Linked DNA regions of Homo sapiens: region 2 is linked to region 1. Evidence: fine-mapped expression QTL. A gene starts in region 1. The other region holds a variant in brackets. All regions are shown on one strand. Distances are between the middles of the regions.

The links. PIP is the estimated chance that this variant, and not a neighbour inherited with it, causes the effect.
Region 2: its variant is fine-mapped to the expression of BOP1 in whole blood (TOPMed, PIP above 0.99).

Annotation. Positions count from the first base shown.
Region 1 is chr8:144,287,056-144,297,137 of GRCh38, forward strand. It overlaps BOP1 (BOP1 ribosomal biogenesis factor), which reads right to left and starts at 4,383. Exons shown (of 16, transcript NM_015201.5): 1 at 4,217-4,383; 2 at 2,040-2,249. The coding sequence starts at 4,315. HSF1 (heat shock transcription factor 1) reads left to right here and starts at 4,549. Exons shown (of 13, transcript NM_005526.4): 1 at 4,549-4,819. The coding sequence starts at 4,703. RefSeq lists silencers at 4,127-4,626, 4,737-4,896 and enhancers at 5,028-5,684, 5,287-5,346.
Region 2 is chr8:144,259,817-144,269,898 of GRCh38, forward strand. MROH1 (maestro heat like repeat family member 1) reads left to right here. Exons shown (of 44, transcript NM_032450.3): 38 at 95-241; 39 at 370-558; 40 at 861-1,016; 41 at 1,091-1,225; 42 at 1,298-1,400; 43 at 1,468-1,533; 44 at 1,839-2,110. The coding sequence ends at 1,924. BOP1 (BOP1 ribosomal biogenesis factor) reads right to left here. Exons shown (of 16, transcript NM_015201.5): 4 at 5,101-5,255; 5 at 4,898-5,015; 6 at 4,699-4,800; 7 at 4,409-4,621; 8 at 4,165-4,326; 9 at 4,015-4,095; 10 at 3,876-3,945; 11 at 3,662-3,794; 12 at 3,405-3,585; 13 at 3,037-3,325; 14 at 2,772-2,856; 15 at 2,580-2,687; 16 at 2,229-2,501. The coding sequence ends at 2,348. It overlaps SCX (scleraxis bHLH transcription factor), which reads left to right and starts at 6,637. Exons shown (of 2, transcript NM_001080514.3): 1 at 6,637-7,364; 2 at 8,288-8,665. The coding sequence starts at 6,798. The coding sequence ends at 8,326. MIR7112 (microRNA 7112) reads right to left here and starts at 2,921; the gene lies at 2,857-2,921. RefSeq lists a silencer at 6,571-6,760 and enhancers at 7,006-7,773, 7,774-8,539. The variant G/T (reference allele first, on the strand shown) is at 6,081.

The DNA.
Region 1 (10,082 bases):
CTGGAGTGCAGTGGTGAGATCTCGGCTCACTGCAACCTCCGCCTCCCAGGTTCAAGTGATTCTAACGCCTCAGCCTCCCGAGTAGCTGGGATTACAGGCACGCGCCACCACGCCCAGCTAATTTTTATATTTTTAGTAGAGACAGGGTTTCACCATGTTAGCCAGGCTGGTCTTGAACTCCTGAGCTCAGGTGATCCATCCACCTTAGCCTCCCAAAGTGCTGGGATTACAGGCGTGAGCCACCACGCCCGCTGAAAGAATTTAATAAAAAAATCATTAACATGTAAATGTGTAAATCCTTAATTTAAAAAGGGACAGAAGACCCAGAAAGATGTACACCAGACCACTAACTGTGCTCACGGGTTAGGTGTGAGGGCCCTGAGTGGGAGCTTCCACCCTACTGAATGGTGCTGCTACAATATCTACATTATTTTCCAGGATGTTTTATCTCATAATTTTTTTTTGAAACAGGGTCTTGCTTGTCACCCAGGCTGGAGTGCAGTGGCTCTATCATAGCTCACTGTGACCTGGATTCCTGGGCTCAGGAGATCCTCCCACTTTGGCCTCTCGAGCTGCTGGGATTACAGGTATGAGCCACTGTGCCTGGCCCAGTATTGTATCATTTTAAAAACTCAAGAAGGGGTAACGTAGTTGTCCATAATCTTACAAACCACTGCCAACACAGCACATCATTTTTTCTCTGTGTATGTTAGTGGTATAATTAAAGCCTGAATTAAGTGTGATTTTAAATCTTTTCTTCCCAGCAAACAAGCCAACCCAACACAGCTAGCACACAATGAACAAGCCATGGTTCCTTGGCTTCTATCACGGGGACCTCTGCCAAGGCCGTAACTTCCAGAACACCGAAACTACTGGGAGAGTAAATCCTTACAAACGATTTCCAGAATGTTTAGAGTAACAAATGCTGGGCTGGGCGCGGTGGCTCACACCTGTAATCCCAGCACTTTGGGAGGCCAAGGCAGGCAGATCACTTGAGGTCAGGAGTTCGAGACCAGCCTGGCCAACATGGTGAAACCCCGTCACTACTAAACATACAAAAAAAAATTAGCCGAGCCTGGTAGTGGGCACCTGTAATCCCAGCTACTCAGGAGGCTGAGACAGGAGAATTGTTTGAACCCAGGAGGTGGAAGATGCAGTGAGCCAAGATCGCCCCACTGCACTCCAGCCTGGGCAACAGAGCAAGACTCTGTCTTAGAAAAAAAAAAAAAAAATAGGCCGGGCGTGGTGGCTCACCTGAGGTCAGGAAATCGAGACCAGCCTGGCCAACACGGCAAAACCCTGTCTCTACTAAAAGTACAAAAATTAGCCGGGCGTGATGGCATGTACCTGTAATCCCAGCTACTAGAGAGGCTGAGGCAGGAGAATTACTTGAACCCAGGGGATGGAGGTTGCAGTGAGCCAAGATCACACCACTGCACTCCAGCCTGGGCGACAGAGTGAGACTCTGTCTCAAAAAAATAAAAAATAAAAAAAAATAACAAATGCTGTGTTTTAGTTAAATTATGCTTTTCTCCTGTTGTTCTCAATAAGAGTAGGGTGCATCCTCCCCCACCATCGCTGCAACAGGTACAATGTTAAACCCTCTACCCGTCGGCTGCTCAGGCCCCTGAAGCCCTGTGGGGTCAGGCCCAGCTGGGTTCCGTTGGGGCCCCCATGCCGCCTGCTTGAGCCCTGCCATGCTGCTCAGCTCCCTCCTCAGCTGGGTCCTGCCACTGGATTCCAAGCAGTAAAATCCCCACCTCAAGGAAACCCAACCTGTTGCCAGGAGGGTTGCCCGAGCATCGTCTGACGGGGAAGGGCCTAGGCATGTGGATTTTCAGAGTTCCTGGGAACGGCACGCAACTGGGGATGGAAACCAGCGTCCTAGAGCCCAAGCGTGCCCCAGGTGCAGTGAAGGAGGGACGCCGGCCTTGGGGTTCTGAGGGACGGTGGAGAAGGCAGTACAGTGGCAGTCTCAGAAAGCCCAAGGCCACCTGCACATGGGGGACAGCCCTCGAGGGGGCTCCTCGCTCACCCACCTGCACCTGCTCCTCAGTGGTCTTTTTAATCCCACTGTGGCCCTCGTCATCAAGGGCTCCGTCCTCTCCCTCCTCGTCGCCTTCGTCATCATCCTCACTGCTGTCACTGCCGGAATCTTCCAGGCCTGAGAACACACTTTCCTCGCTGTCGGAGACGCCAGAATCGCTGCCGGTGCTGTGGCTGAGAGGAGAGGTGCAGAGGAGGGGGGGCTGCAAGGAAACACTGGGTTGGTGACAACTGCCCCTCCAGGCATGGGGCACTGAACACTGCAGGGAGAGCTGCCTCTCGCCCCTCCAGCCACCCACCAGCAGCTCCATGTGGCCTCCAGGACCACACCCCTCCAGTCACAAACTTCCACCAAAAGCATCCACCCAACCTGAGCCTTCCTCATCTTCTACCTCCACTGACAAGACAGCCTCTTGCCTTTGCCATCGACATTTTAATTCCTAGCACCTCACAGGGAAGGGGCTTTTCAAGGACAACCTCCTCCTCTTGGAGCTCAGCTCTCATCGCAAAACTAACACTGCTCTCTACCACCCACTGACACTCCGGAGGCCCTGTGGGGTCAGGCTGGGCTGGACTCCACTGGGTCCCTCAGACAGCCTGCCTGAGCCCTCTCCACACCTCACCCTGGCATCCAAGGCCCCAGAGCCAAGAGGTCACTAGAAAAGGGGCTGGGGGCTGGAAGAGAAATGGGTCCCCAAAGGGCTTTTACCACCTGAAGCAGACGCCTCCTCATTTAACCAGATTGGGACCAACGATTGATCAGTAAATTGAAAGGATTGGCTGAAGAGTCACAGGAATGATAGAGACTCTAACCGCAACCACGCACCAACCCACCCACTCCTCTCTCTGAGCAGGACCACAGCTGCCTCTGAGCAGAGCCCTGCTGGCTGCGTGACACCGGCACACACAGTGTTCGGGTCCTTCACTGGCCTTAAAGGGTGGAACAAGAACTTAGACTCTTAGGAAGCAGTTGAAGGCCAGGCACAGTGGCTCACTCCTGTAATCCCAACACTTTGGGAGGCTGAGGCGGGTGGATCACCTGAGGTCAGGAGTTCAAGACCAGCCTGGCCAACATGGTGAAACCATCTCTACTAAAAATACAAAAATTAGCTGGTGGTGGCGGGCACCTCTAATCCCAGCTACTCAGGAGGCTGAGTTAGCCAGGAGGTGGAAGCTGCAGTGAGCCAAGACTGCACCACTGCACTCTAGCCTGGGCAACAGAGCCAGGCTCTGTCTCAAAAAAAAAAAAAAGAAAAAAGAAAGAAAAGGAAAAGAAAAGAAAAAGGAAGCAGTTGAATGCAGAATTCTAGATTTTACTGTTTTCCTAATAGTTTACAAGTCTCACTTAAGGTACGACCTGCATGTATTAGCTATTGCATACCGAGTGTTCACACAATGCCTCTCTCACACAGAGTCATGATGTGTCTTGGTATTCAGTCGGCTACACAATCACAATAACTAGTGGAAATGGCATCCGTGGCCTGGGCGCAAACAACTGGCTCCTGAGGACCGTTTAGTCCAAGGGTGGAAGTCGCAGAACCTGGCGCCTAGAGTGGCCTGCGGGCCATTCAGCCCATGGGAGCCAGGATGAGTTGAATTCGCTTCACAAAGCAATGGGGCAGTTTCAACAACCCAGCGCGGCCGCGGCCGAGGGGGCTGTGAGGGGCTGGCTGTCCATCCCCTCCACCACCCAATTTGATGATCCCCACAACCAAGACAGGGCTGAGCTAGCAGAGAGCAACAGTGAGTTCTAATACAGCAAATGCAGCAGACACTGGGTTCTATTCAGGTTTTCTTATTCTCATGTCTATCCCATGAGCATAAAAACGCAATTAACTAGCGTATACGTAGGTTAAGCATTTACTGGGAGCGCAAGCCGAGCCCTTTTATTGGCAGGATGCACAAATGGAACGGCTGGAGAGGCTGCTGCAAGGGGCGCCCCGTCCCCACTCCCCGCTCCCCCGTTTCTTTGCTTCCCGGACGCCGTCCTTTACCCCGCAGTCCGCTCTGCCTGAGACCCCCCGATAGAGGAGCTGCACCCACGCCCAAGACCGATTCACTGGGCGCGGGCGCCCAGGTGACAGAAGCCGGGCCCACCCGCCCCAGCGCGGCCACGTGCCCGCCGGGCCCTCTAGGGACGCGCCCCGCCGCCCCGCATCGCCACAGTCACCTCCGGCTCGGGCTCAGGCTCCAGTTCGGGCTCAGACCGCCGCTTCTCCGGCCGCACGCTCGGCGCCGCCGTGCGCCCCGCACCCCGCGAACCCGCCATGCCCCACCGCGCGCCGGCCGCCACCCGCACAGCCGCTTCCGACAGCGACCGGGCCGCGTGCGCAGGAGGACGCGCCCCGCCCAGCCCGGCCCCGATTGGCGGGTGGAGGGAAGGGGGTGGGACCAACACGCGCAGGCGCGCGGCTGGGCCGGGGACCAGGGCGGGGTCGGGGCCTGCGTGCTCGCGCCGGGGGTGACGCGGGAGGGCGGCAGCGGCGGCGGCGGGAGCGCGCCCGTTGCAAGATGGCGGCGGCCATGCTGGGCCCCGGGGCTGTGTGTGCGCAGCGGGCGGCGGCGCGGCCCGGAAGGCTGGCGCGGCGACGGCGTTAGCCCGGCCCTCGGCCCCTCTTTGCGGCCGCTCCCTCCGCCTATTCCCTCCTTGCTCGAGATGGATCTGCCCGTGGGCCCCGGCGCGGCGGGGCCCAGCAACGTCCCGGCCTTCCTGACCAAGCTGTGGACCCTCGTGAGCGACCCGGACACCGACGCGCTCATCTGCTGGAGCCCGGTGAGGGCAGCGCGCGGGCGCGGGGCCCGTGGGGACCGGGAGGGAGCAGGGCCGCGGCGGACGGCGCGGGAGGGCTGCGGGGAGGGGCCCTGCCGCACTTCAGCTTACGCGCGGTGAGCCTGCCCTGCCCCCGCCAGAGAAGGGCGGCGGGTCCCGAGCCTGCTCAGACCCAGAGCCTTAAGTTGGGAAAGCGGCTACGAGACCCACACTCGGTTCAACCCCTGCCCCAGCGAAGTTTCCCTGGGATGGGGAGAATGGGGCGTCTCTTGTATTGGGCTTCTGCTAACTGTTGGGCGGTTGCGGAAGTGTCCGCGCTTAGGGCAAGCACCCGGCTTCGCCAGCGGACGCTATGCCCCAGAGGACATCGGCGTCCCCAGGGGACAGCCTACGGGGTGCTGGGTCGGCAACTATTAGGAGAAAGTCAGGACTTGGCACGTGAAGTGGAGGGCGTTGCTGTAGTGGAACAGGAAAGGCAGTGGAAACAGTAAGACGTCATGAAGCTTCAGGTTGATCTCAAGCCCGTTTCCGAATCCCAAATCTGGGTTTCCCAAGAGGAGTTTTGTTTTTCATTCCTTATGGGGCATCTTTATTCGTGTTTCTGTCTTCAGTTGCCTGGCAGCAGGCTTGTTTACATGGTCCGACCCTGCAAGACCGGACAGCTCCGGTTTGCAGAAGTAAATCAGTGATTGTCTGGAGTTGGAGATCAGAATCTGCTGTTCACATCCCGGCTGTGACGTCGTGTCCGGTGAGGGGCAGAGCCACCGCCTGCGGCTGGCAAGTGATGACCTGAAGAAGGGCCACACTGGCCGAGTGGGGTGACTCTTGCTTGTAATCCCAGCACTTTGGGAGGCGGAGGCGGGTGGATCACTTGAGGCCAGGAGTTCGAGACCAGCCCGGACAATATGGCAAAACCCCAGCTCTACTAAAAATACAAAAAATTTGCCGGGCGTGGTGGTGCTTGCCTGTGGTCTTAGCTACTTGGGAGGCTGAGATAGGAGGACTCCCTGGACCTGGGAGGCAGAGGTTGCACTGAACCAAGATCCCGCCACTGCAGCCTGGCAAAGAGTGAGACCCTGTCTAAGAAAAAAAAGAAAAAAAAGAAAGGCCACTGATCATTGGGAGCTTTTGGAGGCACCGTGACCGGCAGGGTGCCACCAAGCATGTGTGGCCTCCCAGGAGCTAAGACCCCAGAGTTCTTCAGGCTCTGCTGAGTGCCTCCCATTTGCACAGCCTCTTTATGCTGTTAGGAATGAAGAAAAGTCTAAACTGAAGCTGCCCCAGGCAGGAGGCCAGGTTTTCTGCTTCTTGGGTTTACTGAGGCTCTGCTTTACCTACAGAGTGTTTGGAAATAAAGAGAAGACTGGAAATCTTTGCTCTTGTTAGAAACACTTTGTGTTTGTCCCGCTGACACCTCTGTGTTGGCCTTCCCATCCCCAGGTCCCATTAAGGCACAGTGCACCTTCCTGGAGGCTGGCTTCATTTCACCATCTCTTCATTCTAGACCTTGGATTCTTGTGCAAAGGAAATACTCCCATGTTTCTGTCTTCTTTTATCCGTCTTTTTCTTTTTTCTTTTTTTTTTTTTTAGACCGAGTCTTGCTCTGTCACCCAGGTTGGAGTGCAGTGGTGCGATCTCGGCTCACTGCGACCTCCACCTCCCGGGTTCAAGCAATTCTGCCTCAGCCTCCCGAGTAGCCAGGACTACAGGTGCGTGCTGCCACACCCGGCTGATTGTTGTATTTTTAGTAGAGACGGGGTTTCACCACATTGGACAGGCTGGTCTGGAACTCCTGACCTCAAGTTATCCACCCGCCTTGGCCTCCCAAAGTGCTGGGATTACTGGTGTGAGCCACTGCACCCAGCCCTTCTTCTTTTTCTTATTCCCCTTAATCCTCAGAAGTTAAGGGGAATAACTCCCCCATTGGGGGAGGGGCATCCGCGATTATCTGGGATATTCTAAGCTTAATCCTACTAGCGTGATCTGTCCTGTCCCGTAATCTGCTTGCTGTTTCTGCTTAAAGATTATGAGGCATGTGGGTTAGGGCCCAGTGTACCCTTTTTTGGGACCGAGGCATGTTCTGGGCAGGGCTTTTGAGCAAGGAAGGCAGGTGTGATGAGGCCCGTGGCCAGCCTCCACTCCACTCACAGGTGCACCACCTGTGGATCTGTTCTCCCTGGGGAGGGATGGGGAGCCAACTGGAATGTGAGTGTTTGGTTCCACCTGGTCAGTATGAAGTGGCAATGGTTGGTGCAGGACGTAGCACTGGGGGCGAGCATGGCAATGAGACAGAAACACTGACTTAAAACTGGAAGGAAGCCCTTCTCCAGGCCGCGCAGGGGGCTGCAGAGCTTTCCGGCGCTGGCTGCCTGGCCTGGAGAAAGGAGGTGATCATCCCATCCTGTGACTTTGAGAGCACTCACACAAGCCCTGAGGACTCCCTGTCAGCAGAGTCCCAACAGGGCACCCTCCCACAAATCTACTGCCCAGGCCCAGCTGGCTCTCGGAGGCCTTGAGAAGGCCCTGGTGCTCTTGCTCTCTGCTGCCTTCTCTGGGAGAGTCTCCTTCTGGCTCAGAGTCTTACCACCATTCTGCCAAGAAAAACCCTCCCTATTTGACACAAGAAGATGAGGCAGAATCACAGGCATGGTGACTAACTCTCAAGGCTGAATAACCTGGGGGAGACCGAGGCCCAGAAACTGGCCAGTAACTTTACTGAGCCTGGCCAGGAATGGGACCAGGTCTGGACCACCATTGCACGTCCCCTCCCTGGCCTGAGATCAGGACTCCCACTGCAGCCACTGGAGGCAGAATGCCGGGTCACTGCCCAGGAGACCCCATTGGTGGGGACTGTGGCAGCTACCCCATCCCTGTGTTGTTTGATTTCCCACCCCCCCCTCCCAAGACCCTCATTCCCATGAGCACCCCACCCACACAGGCAAGGGCCTTGAGGGGACCCAGCAAGTCGTGGAGGACAGCACAGCCTTGGAGAGGAAATGTGTCAGCCACAAGGTTATGATCCCGGGGATCCACATAAGAGCATGGGCGTGCACGTGGGTGGTCCTCCCTCAGCCAGCTTCTCAACAGCTTCTCCCAAAGGTACACCTGGATCCAGTACCACTGAGACCCAAAGACGGGGTTGGGGGACTGAATACCTGGACTGACAGGCACCTCCATAGAACTGAGACCCATGAGACCCGGGACCCGCAGCCTCCCTGCCCCGTGCCCTGGTGCCGGCCCTCAGCCCAGCTTCCTCGTCTGCATGCAGCAGCTCCTCTGTCCACCAGCAGAGGCTCTTCTAGGGCCTTGCTGGGCTGCAGCTGACTCAGGAGGGCAACAGCCTCTTCAGAGAATTTGACAGCATGGAGAACCAAACAAAAGCAGAAAGTGAAGCCTCAGAACTGGGTTCACCATCATCCCAGTTTTTTACAAGCTATGATTTTGTCCCATCTTTATTAACAAGATAAGGAAGTATGAAAAGTAATCTCGACATCTGAGATGGTGAGATTACAGCCCCAGGAGCCACCCAGCTGGCTGAGGAGCCTGAGAACAAGGCACAGCCACATGACCTGTGCCAGACAAATGCTAGAATGATGGTCACGCAGGTTAGAACGAACCCAGGTAGACGGAGGCCTCAGGATCAGGGTGAGGCCAGAGGGGGCACCTGGGTGCAAAATTTAAGGAAGCACTTTTTGTTTTTTAGATAAGGTCTCGCTCTGTTGCCCAGGCTGGAGTGCAGGGCTATGATTGCAGCTCGCTGCAGCCTCTGCCTCCCAGGCTCAAGTGATCCAGTCACCTCAGCTGAGTCACTGGGACTACAGGCTTGCACCACCAGACCTGGCTTTTTTTTTTTTTTCTTTTTAAGGTTTTAGTAGAGACAGGGTCTCGCCGTATTGCCCAAGCTAGTCTGGAACTCACGGGCTCAAGCCATCCTCCCATCTCAGCCTCCCGAAGTGCTGGGATTACAGGCTTGAGCCACCGCGCCTGGCCCTGAGGCATTCCTTTTTAAGACCTACCTGCATTCGGATGGCGCTGGGAGTGGGGGCCTCCTTAGATGTGGGCTCCTGGATGCTTCTCTGTCTTCACCTGGCCCCAGCCTCATGGGTGCAGCTGGAAAGACTCTAGAAGGATGTGCTGAAACCCTGGGGCTCCCTGAGACTGAGTGAGCTGGAGGTCACCAAGGCCCTCGGCCTATCGCGGGAGAGAGTTCCATTGAAAGCCAGTGGTCAGGTGGCCGCTGTGGAGGGTCTCTGGGTGGACAATTGGGAGCAGAGTGGTCCCTGCAGTGAGGCAGGGGGCAGGGCCTGAGGGGTCCCTGAAGTAAGGCAGGGCAGGGCGTCCACTCATAAGCACACGAGGAGTTGCAGAAGCAGAGCCGACCTGGCCACGCTCAGTCACTCAGACCCTGGTCACAGATCGTGTCCGGAGCTCCCACGGCAGGCAGGGCCACCCCTGCTTCCCTGGTTCTGAGAGCCGCCAAGACCCAGCAGGCCCACTGGCCCCACCCTGGAAGATCTGGTATTTGGCCCAAGATGCTGGAGGCCCCACAGCAGCAGCTGTGAGAAGTGCTGCAGGGTCTGGAGGGCCTGATGTGTGCCCGGACCATAGTGCCTCCTGGTGTGGCCATAAGAAGGCACACAGCTGGGGCTGGTCGTGGTGGCTCACGCCTGTAATCCCAGCACTTTGGGAGGCTGAGGTGGGCGGATCACGAGATCAGGAGGTCAGGAGATTGAGACCATCCTGGCTAACATGGTGAAACCCCGTCTATATTAAAAAATACAAAAAACTAGCTGGACGTGGTGGTGGGTGCCTGTAGTCCCAGCTACTTGCGAGGCTGAGGCAGGAGAACGGCGTGAACCCAGGAGGCGGGGCTTGCAGTGAGCTGAGATCGCGCCATTGCACTCCAGCCTGGGTGACAGAGCGGGACTCCATCTCAAAAAAAAAAAAAAAGAAGGCACACATCTGTCCTCATACAGCTTCTGTGCATAGCACAGAAAAAATTAAAAAGGCTCTGTGCTGTAGCCTCCTGTGTTTCCTCTGCCCCGGATGGTGTGGTGGGGGGGGTGCGGTGAGGAGGGGCCCAGGGCACAGAAGGGCTGAGCTGCAGTGGCCTCCTGGGGGGAGGCAGATGCCTCCGGTGCCCCATGCCCACCCAACTCCACAGGCTAGTGTTTGCTCAGTCCTTTATTGAGGGACCAGGGATGGACAGCCTGGCCCTGAAAGTCTCTCAGTTTTGGAGGAGTCAGCCTGTGTGCAGGGCGAGCTG
Region 2 (10,082 bases), 27 kb before region 1:
GCGTGGGGACAGCCTCTGGTGTTCTGGGCCTGGGCTGGTGGGTTGAGCCCTGGGGTCAGCGGGGAGAGGGAAGTCACAGCACCTCTGCCTGCAGCTGCTGAACAGCAACGTGGCCAACGACCTCATGCTCTTGGACTCGCTGCTGGAGAGCCTGGCGGCTCGCCAGAAGGACACATGCGCCAGCGTGCGGAGGCTGGTGCTCCGCGGCCTGGCCAACCTGGCCTCCGGCTGCCCTGACAAGGTGGGGTGGCCACCAGCCCCTCTGGGTCCCAGGCAGCATGGGTGGGGGGCTGTGCATGGAGGCCACCCTGTCTTGTGGGGTAGCAGACGGTGACTCTGGGACCCAGGCTGAGTGTAAGGTATCCTCAGGTGCGAACCCACGGCCCCCAGCTCCTCACAGCCATGATTGGCGGGCTGGACGACGGGGACAACCCTCACAGCCCAGTGGCCCTGGAGGCCATGCTGGGCCTTGCGAGGCTGGTGCACCTGGTGGAGTCCTGGGACCTGCGCTCAGGGCTGCTGCACGTGGCCATCCGCATCCGGCCTTTCTTCGACAGTGTAGGCTGGTTGGGGCAGGGGGAGGGAAGAGGGCCCCAGCCCTTCCTGCCTCTTACTCTGAGCTTTAGCCCCAGCCCCACCCTCCTCCCTGTCTCCCACCTCGGCTAGGTGACCGTGGAGAGCGCGGACCTGCAGGGCTGCTGCTTTGCTGGGCCTGGCAGCCCCCACCCGTAAGGCCCCCACCCGTCGGGGTGTTTCCTGGCCCGGGTCAGGCAAGGGCACCCATCAATGGCAGGGGGCTAGGCAGGCAGGCCTGCAGGGGCACAGCCTGTGAGGAGACGTATGCTGCATGTCCTTCCCAGGAGAAGATGGAGTTCCGGACGGCATCTATCCGCCTCTTTGGGCACCTTAACAAGGTCTGCCACGGAGACTGTGAGGACGTCTTCCTGGACCAGGTGGTGGGCGGGCTGGCGCCCCTGCTGCTGCACCTGCAGGACCCTCAGGCCACCGTGGCCAGCGTGAGTAGCCAGGGGGTGAGTGGGATGGGGTGGGTGGCCTCAACTGGACTTGGCCCCAGTGCCGCATCCCTTAGGCCTGCAGGTTTGCCCTGCGCATGTGTGGCCCCAATCTGGCATGTGAGGAGCTCTCAGCTGCTTTCCAGAAACACCTGCAGGAGGGCCGAGCCCTGCACTTCGGGGAGTTCCTCAACACCACCTGCAAGCACCTGGTGAGGGGTGGGGCCAGGCGGGGCGTGGTGGGTGGGGCGGGGCCAGGCGGCACTGACCAGGCCTCTCCCCAGATGCACCATTTCCCAGACCTGCTGGGCCGTCTCCTGACCACCTGCCTGTTCTACTTCAAGAGCAGCTGGGAGAACGTCCGAGCTGCTGCACCCCTGTTCACCGGTAAGCACCACCCCCTGCCCCACCCCCACGCCGCCCGGCAGCCCCGCCTGATGCCCCCACTTCACAGGGTTCCTGGTGCTGCACTCGGAGCCCAGGCAGCAGCCGCAGGTGGACCTGGACCAGCTCATTGCGGGTGAGCACCCCTCCACGGGGCCCCTCCGCTGGGCCCTGCTGACCCTGTAGGCACCCGCAGGGACTAAGTGATTTTCCTGGATTTCAGGACTTTTTCCCTGTCACTGGTGACCTCATCGTCTCTAGTAATTCACGGAAACTTCTTAACTGTTCCAAAAGAGCTTAAAAAACACTAAAAAAGGAAAAACGATCTTTCCGTTGGCTCCTGAGCCTCCCAGCAGAGGCTGTCAGGAGAGCGTGGCCCACGCGCAGGCATGGGCATGCCGAGGTCACAGCCCGCAGGCAGCCCCCCTCCTCTACCCCCAGCGCTCCAGATCCTGCTGAAGGACCCGGCCCCCGAGGTGCGGACGAGGGCTGCTGAGGCCCTGGGCCGCCTGGTGAAGCTCGCCTAAGGCTCCGGCCAGCACCCCCAGCGAGGAGTATGCACCCAGACCTGTGCCTGAGCTCCAAGACAGGGCCTCCTGAGGACCACAGCCTGGGCACACGACTGGAGGGGCCTGGCCCCAGAACAGGCACTGCTGGGGACCAAACCCAAGCCCTTCAGTGAGGGATGTGCCCAATAAACTCATCTGCTCCCAGCGAGTGACTGACAGGGTGCGATGCTGAGCCTCTTAGGGGATGGGCCAGAGGGTGCCCTGGACTGGCTGTGTTGTCCCCACTGTTTTTGCAAAATTGAGTGAGGGGAAGGCTCGGCGCTGTGGTGGGGGCGGCTTTGTTGGCAACCCCAATTCAAGAAGGTGGGAGCACCAGGCAGCACAGGGTAAAGGCTCTGTTGACTTCAGCACGACCACCCCAGCCCCAGGCAGGCAGAACAGCTAGGTGAAGAGGCGGACAGTCCCGTCTGCCCCCGAGGAGAAGACCCACGGCTGGGTGGGGTGGAAGATGACGTCCAGCACTCCCAGATCTCGGGTCAGCACGTGTCCCTTCAGCACCTTGACGGGCACCAGCAAGGGGTTCTGCAGAAGGTCACTGTGGGGACGAGGAGGGCTCAGGGCACGGCCAGACACCACTGCCCTGGGGAGGGGGCCAGGCAGGGTCAGCACTCACTTGTACACCATGCCATGGCAGACGATGACACTGCCGTCGTCCGAGCCTGACGCAAAGAGTGGGTACCGCGGGTGGAAGGCCACAGCCCGCAGAGCCTTCTTGTGGTGTCTGGGGGGAGGGAACCAGGTTGAAGGCAGGCTCGGGCTGAAGGGAGGGGCTCTGCTGGCCGCCTCCACCCCCAGCTTTCCTCACCTCAGCATCCTGTATGGCTTGGTGGAAAGATCCAGGTCAAACCACACCAGCTTGCTATCGTAGCTCCCACAGATGACGTTGTCACCTAGGGCCAAAGGCTGTGATGCAGGTGTTCCCGCTCTCACCTGCAGGGTGCACTGCCCTGCCCGTCACCTACACCCCTCACCTGCAGGGTGCACTGCCCCTACCCCCACCCCTCACCTGCAGGGTACACCGCCCCCCCCCCCACCCCTCACCTGCAGGGTGCACCGCCCCCACCCCTCACCTGCAGGGTGCACCGCCAGGCTGGACACCCACTTGCAGTTGGGCATCAGCTTCTTGGTGAGCTCCTGGCGCAGCAGGTGGTAGAGGCGGACGCTGCGCTGGGACGCCACCAACAGGAAGGGCCGGGCAGGGTGGAAGGCCACTCGCTGCACCTGTCCGTGGCTGCGGCGGAACGGACTCTGGCTGCGGCGACGGCTCAGCTGGTGAATCAGCACCTGGGTGTGGCCTTGGGTGGCCAGCACCACGGCCAGGTAGTCCCCACGCCCGTGCCAGGTCACCTGCGTCACTGGCTGCAGGAGAGCAAGGCTGGCTGAGTGGCTGAGCCGGGCCCCTCCCGCTGCAGCCTCACCCCCAAGGCGCCCCACGTACCTTCCCGTGGCAGATGCGCAGCCGCAGGCCCACTTGGCGCTCCTCCTCTGAGGCCTCCAGCCAGCGGGCCGGCTGCAAGGGGGGCTCCTCAGGCGGGACGAAGGCGCTCAACAGCTGATCTGTGCTGCCCGCCACCAGCCGGTCCCCCAGAGCTGGGTTCAGCAGCAGCACCGAGTCCTCCCTGTGAGCCAGGCCCAGACACGGCCCCTAAGCACAGTGCCACCCCTGGCTCCCCAGCCCCCAGGGCCTCCACTTACACGGCTGCAGCCACCAGGCAGACAGCGGGGCTGGGGTTCCAGGCCACACTCTTCACCACGCCCCCCACGGGAACAGTCCTCACACAGCGGGCAGTGGCCACCTCCCAGAGCCGCAGGGAGCCGTCGTCAGAGCCTGGATGCGGCAGAGACAGCTCTCAACACCTGGCCATCCCACCTGCCCCCCAGCTCAAGGCTGCCCCCAGCTCGGACCCACCTGAAACCAGCCACTGGCCCCCAGGAGAGACACTGAGGCACCGGACAAGGTCACTGTGGCCCCTGTAGACCTGAGGAGGCGGCGGCAGTGAGGAGTCAGACTGGGAGGGTGCAACCCCAGCCCCCTAGTCTCCACTTACCAGGGCCTGGCACGTGGGGAAGGGCTGCAGGTCCCTCGGCCGAGGCAGCTTGGGGATGAGGTCCTCAGGGTCTACATTCACCTGGGGCAGGAGAGCGCCAGGTCAGCCTTGCCCCCTGTGCCACCCCCCTGGTGTGCCACCCCCACACACCCTCATCTTGCGCTGCCGTGGGCACAGGTACAGGTCAAGGCAGCGCTCGAAGCGTTCCTGGATGAAGCGTCCGTAGGCAGGCACGGCCCGCAGGCTCGGGAACTTGCGTGGCAAAAAGCTCAGCTTCCTCTCGCCTGGCTCCTGCTGTTCCCACGCCAAGCGCTGTGGAGACCAAGACACAGGGGTGGGGAGGGTCACAGGGAAGCATGGGGACAGGGTCCCGGCCCCCAGGATGCAGGCCCACCTCCTCCTCGCTGAGCAGGTATTCAGGGGGTGGGTTGTACGACTCGGCGTGGCCTGGCAGGGCCAGCTTGGGAGCAGGTACGTGCATCTTGTGGCGCCCGAGCACGGCGTTGGGGTCCTCCTGGGCCCACAGGTCATAGAAGCTGGGGGTGGGGTCTCGGGGCCGGCGAGGCTGGATCCAGCCCATCTTGATGGCGTGCACCATGCGAGAGACCTGCATAGACAGCCGGGTCAGGACGGGCAGTGCGGGGCGGTCAGCCCAGGCCAAGCCCCAGGGGCTGTGTGCCCCACCTTCTCCTTCTCCACCAGGGAGGGGATGAAGCTGCGCTTGTCGGCCGGGCGGTTGGTCACCGGGTGGATCATGACGTCCCCGCTGAAGAAGTCGACAGCCGGCTGGGGGAGAAGATGTGGGCGTGTGGGCCAGAGTGGCTGAGGCCCTGCTGGTGCCTCCAGGACCCCCGCCGCCCAGGGGCCAGCCCCTGCCACCTACCTCATAGGGGTTGAAGCCCACATCCCCAAACTGGCCACTCTGCAGCCGCCGCACCAGGGCCACCTGCTCATCCGTCAGTCTCAGGTCCCGCCCTGTCATCGGGTCCTGCACGGTGCGCCTGGAGACCGCCAGTCAGACCCCGCCAGCCCTGCCCCACCCCTCGGGCCCACCCCGGCTGCTGGCCCCACCCCACCAGCCCTCACCAGTAGTCAGGATCGTCCATCTTGTCCAGGAACTGGTCCAGCTCATCCCGGGTCCGCAGGGGCTTGTAGATGCGCCTGCCATCCAGGTCGTAGCCCACGTGGGGGAAGTCATCGTACCACTCCAAGGGCACGTTGCCCACCGTGTTCCGGATGTCCTGCAGCCGGGGGCCACCATGTCGGCATCTGATCCTACAAGGCCCACCCCCGCTTCGGGCCGCCCAGGGGAGCAGGTGAGGGGGTTGCAGGGGGAGTGCAGGCCCAGCCTCAAGTGCCCTGAGGTCACTGGCCCTGACCTACGCCTGTTCCCCAGCCCTGGGGTCTGACGTGGCATGGCGGCCACGCTGCCCCCACCCCCGCCCTCGGAGGCGCCGGAGCTGCACCTTCACATTTTCCACTGAAGTGGTGCCAACCCCAGAGCTCCCCCCTCACTGGATTCCTTGGCCAGGGCTCTGGGCAGCCACAGACAGGGATGACCTCATCACCCACGGGCTCCCTCCCCTGGCAGGGGCCTTAGGCAGAAGTGGGCAGCTATAAGACGGGGACTCGGGGAAGACCCCAACTGACCCATTCCACAGAGAGGCAGAAGCCAAGACCTCTCTGTGGGGGACCCCCCACCGTCTGCCCTCGGCCCCTCCCCAGGCAGAACAGCCACGTTCCTGGACGTACATTCCTGGTTGCAGCCCCTGCCAGCCGCCACCCTCGCTCCTTCCAGCCTGGGGACCGCTGCCCAGGAGGCTGCTTCCTGCAACAGTAGCCACGGGGAGGGGCCCAGGCAAGACAGAGCACAGCTGGGAGCCTGCCGGGCCCCCTGCTGCAGGAGGGACCCCTTGGGCCCTGCCCCCTGCTGAGGGTCCTTCCCTCTCCTCCCCATGGAGATAGGGGGCCATCCCCAAATTGGATAATGGGGGTATGTGTGTGCTTCCTGAGGGGCCTGGTGGCCCTGGAGAGGAACGGGGGAAGGAGGAAGGGGCAAGGAGACC[G/T]ACGGGGTGAGAGGTCCACACAGCACAAGAACAGGGGACATGGCCAGCTAGCAGAAGGCACAGTCTGTGCCAAGCCTGGAGAGGCAGGTGCAGGACAGACAGGCGGAGAGACTGAGCTCTAGGCCCCTAAATACTCGCCTGTGCCCGCCCCCTGCACACGGCCTGGCACAGGCAGGCGCTGGCGCACATGGGAGGCAAAGACAGACAGGGTGCGGTCAGGCAGCAGGGCCAGGGCGGCTGGGTTAACTCAGTTGTGCCACGGGAGAAAACGGGGTGGTGGGTTCCTCCCCTCTCCCGGGGACGGGGGGCACTGCAGTTTTGGGGCCCTGAGTAACTACAGCCCAGAAGCGACCTCCCAGTTCCTCCGCATCCCCAGAGACGGAACGATGCCCCCAAAGACCAGCCCCGCCCCCCCCACCCCCGCCAAAGCGTGGCCACAGAAGGCCGAGGGACGCGGCGGGCGCTGCTCGAGGAGCCTCCGGGCTGAGAGGGGCGGGGCGTGCGCGGGGGAGGGGCCGGGACGCCGCTATAAAGGCGCAGCTCGGGGCCCCGCTCCGGCCCGGGACGCACATGTGCGCGCGACGCCCGGCAGCTGCCACCGCGGGGCGCAGCCGAGACCCCGCGCCTCGCCCCGGCCGGCCCGCGAGGCCCGCGGCGGCCGCAGGAGGCGGCATGAGCAGCGCGCGACAGAGCTGACGCCGCGCCCCCGCCGGCCCCATGTCCTTCGCCACGCTGCGCCCGGCGCCGCCGGGCCGCTACCTGTACCCCGAGGTGAGCCCGCTGTCGGAGGACGAGGACCGCGGCAGCGACAGCTCGGGCTCCGACGAGAAACCCTGTCGCGTGCACGCGGCGCGCTGCGGCCTCCAGGGCGCCCGGCGGAGGGCGGGGGGCCGGCGGGCCGGGGGCGGGGGGCCAGGGGGCCGGCCAGGCCGTGAGCCCCGGCAGCGGCACACGGCGAACGCGCGCGAGCGAGACCGCACCAACAGCGTGAACACGGCCTTCACGGCGCTGCGCACGCTGATCCCCACCGAGCCCGCCGACCGCAAGCTCTCCAAGATTGAGACGCTGCGCCTGGCCTCCAGCTACATCTCGCACCTGGGCAACGTGCTGCTGGCGGGCGAGGCCTGCGGCGACGGACAGCCCTGCCACTCCGGGCCCGCCTTCTTCCACGCGGCGCGCGCCGGCAGCCCCCCGCCGCCGCCCCCGCCGCCTCCCGCCCGCGACGGCGAGAACACCCAGCCCAAACAGATCTGCACCTTCTGCCTCAGCAACCAGAGAAAGTTGGTGAGCACGGGCCGTGGGGCGCCGAGGGGGGCCTCCAACGCGCCCCTCAGCCCACACCTGCCAGGCAGAGGAGGCGAGGCCACACGGGCAGGGCTCCCCAACAGGGCACAGGCAGGCACACCTGTAACACAGGCCTGCCGGGGGCTGGGGCCTTCTCCTGGGGCTCCTCTCCAGGGCGTCCCTAGGACACTCGGCTCCCAGTGGAGTGTGGAGTCCCCTGCAGGGAGCTGCATGAGGGGTAAGAGCTAGGGATGGCCAAAGGGGCCCACCCAGGGCGGGGAGGCTGGGGAGCTGGACCAGGCCGCTGCAAGCTTCCCTTTTCAGTAAGTTGAAAGGCGGAGTGAAAACAGCTGAGTTCAGAAAGTAAGAGGCTGCAAGGCAAGAGAGGAAGGACCCCGGGTTCTTAGCCCCTGCGGCCCAGCACTGGCTTAAGCCATCTTGGGCACCTGCTGTCCGTCCCCCACCTAGGCCGCACACCAAGACACCAGGTCCTGTAGGGCTGCCCGAGACGTGGGCCATGGGACACGAAGGCAGAGGCTGGCAGGAGATGTGGGGGCTGGGGGTGAGGGCCCCTGCAGGAGACGCTGGCCAGCTGTGATTTACAGCTCCTGCTGTGCTTGGTGGCACCGGAAAAGCAGGGTGAGCAGGGAGAAAATACGGCACGGCTTTTCCCAATCCCCATTTCCTCTCCAGACAGCACGCGCGAGCTCCTGGGGCCTGAACATCTGGGAAATTTAATTTTACAATTTCGGCTGTGCAGCAGTATGCTCCCCTCCCCAAAACGCTTGAGGGAAGCTGGGGAGAGCCGGGAAGGAGGTGCCTTGGCGCTGGCCACCTGAGATGGCACCCAGCAGGGAGGCCAGAGAGGCGCAGACTGGCGCTGGGCTCTGCCGGGGCCTGACACTCCTCCCTCCCCTCTGCAGAGCAAGGACCGCGACAGAAAGACAGCGATTCGCAGTTAGGAGGTGGCCGGCAGCAGCCAGGAGGCAGACGCTGCTGGGGGAGGTGGACGCCCGGGGTGACTGCAGACAGCCCCCACCTTGGACCTGAGCTGGGCAAGGCCCACCGCAAGCATGCCCCCAGGCCAGCCCTGGCTGCGAGCGGGGCCGAGGGACAGACGGACGTACAGACAGGCGCCGGCAGCGGGACTCTGCGCTGGCCCCAGCACCTGCCCGGGCCCACTGGAACTTTCTGCGCTGGCTTTTCTTCCGGCCACTGTGTGATGGCATCTTGTGTTTTTGATATGATAATATAAAGTCTGAAAATTTTGTATAATTAAAAACAAAACAGTATCTTCCAAATATGGAGGCCAACTGTCCTCATGAAAGGTTCAGAATCCACCCCCAGCCCCCAGCCTGAGCCTCCATTCCCACCCTTGGTGGTCCCATCCTCCTTGGGCCAAGTACCCCGGCTCCCTGGGAAGCCCCCACTTTCCAGGCTCAGGGCCACCCCTCCCTGGGCTGAGGCGGTGAGGATGGGCTTAGCTCACCCACAGAGCCTCATATCGGGAAGCTGTGGGGTGGGGACAAGGGAGCCACGCCGGGAGAGAGGGTGGGGGAGGAGCTGCGTGGCAGAAGATGGGGAGGGCGAGGCACAAGGCAGGGACGCTGTAAGGCAGGGACAGGGAGGCAGCGGCAGGGACAGAGGCAGCAGCAGGGCAAGGGTGCCCCCGACTCGGGCCTGTCGGGCACCCGGGGGCCCTGAGGGTGAGGAGGGCGCTGCAGGTGGCCACAAGGAGTGGAGCGAGCTGTGCTGCCCAGCGGAGGGGGGGGCTCCCAGCCCCAGCGAGGGCAGTGGGTGTCCTGCCTCCACGAGCCTTGACTGGAGAGAGGGGCATCTCCTCATGCACCAGTGCCACTTGGCCCCTGGAAGCACTGCCCACGTGGGAAGGAGGACCCCTGGCCATCCTCCTCCCACCACCACGGCCCATCCAGCCCCCTGAAGACCCCGCCCACCACAGGAGGTGGGTTTAGCCCCCACAGTGCTCTGTGCACAGCTGGCTGGCCATTAAAACCCTGCAGGTGACAATTACCATTGAGTGGTGTGAGATCAGTGGGCACAGAGAGAAGAAGGGCGGTGCTGTGTGGACCACCTCCCCCCAACCCTGCCAGGCCACAGCCTAACTTCCGGCTGGGTGGACAATGGCTGATGGTGCCAGGTGCGGGCGTCAGGGCGGCGGCCGGCCCCAGTTCCCCGCTAGCACAGGCAGGGACGCACCCTCGGGGGGAGACCAGGTGCTGTGGCCCACGTGGGCATCGGTGCAGGGCTGGCCCAGGACTGCCCCTCCTCTGCAAAGACAGGCTCCAGGGAATGGCGGAGCAGGAAGCAGTGGTGTAATTTTGGAGGAAATTCTCAAAGCCAGAGCCATTAAGGGCTAGAGGGGGGCTGAGTCCAATCTGATAGAAATATAACAGGATAAAAAGTCACAACGGCAGGTTTCGTTCAGAGAGAAACCCAACCCCAAATTTCCTCTCCCTAATCCTGCAGGAGCCCACAGCTGGCCAGAGGGAGGGGAGGAGAGGACAAGCTCAGTCACTGCAGAAGCCTCCGCCCGCCGGGAAGCCAGGGCCCGGGGGACACGGACATGCAGCTAGGGGCTGACGCAGCCCCTTCCCTTCTTGGGAGCTTTCCTCACACCCCCGCCCCGCCACCCTCCCAGGCACCAAGGCGCTGGTGAGTGAGGAGCAGGGTGGACCCAGGAGCATGGCCAGGCCGGGC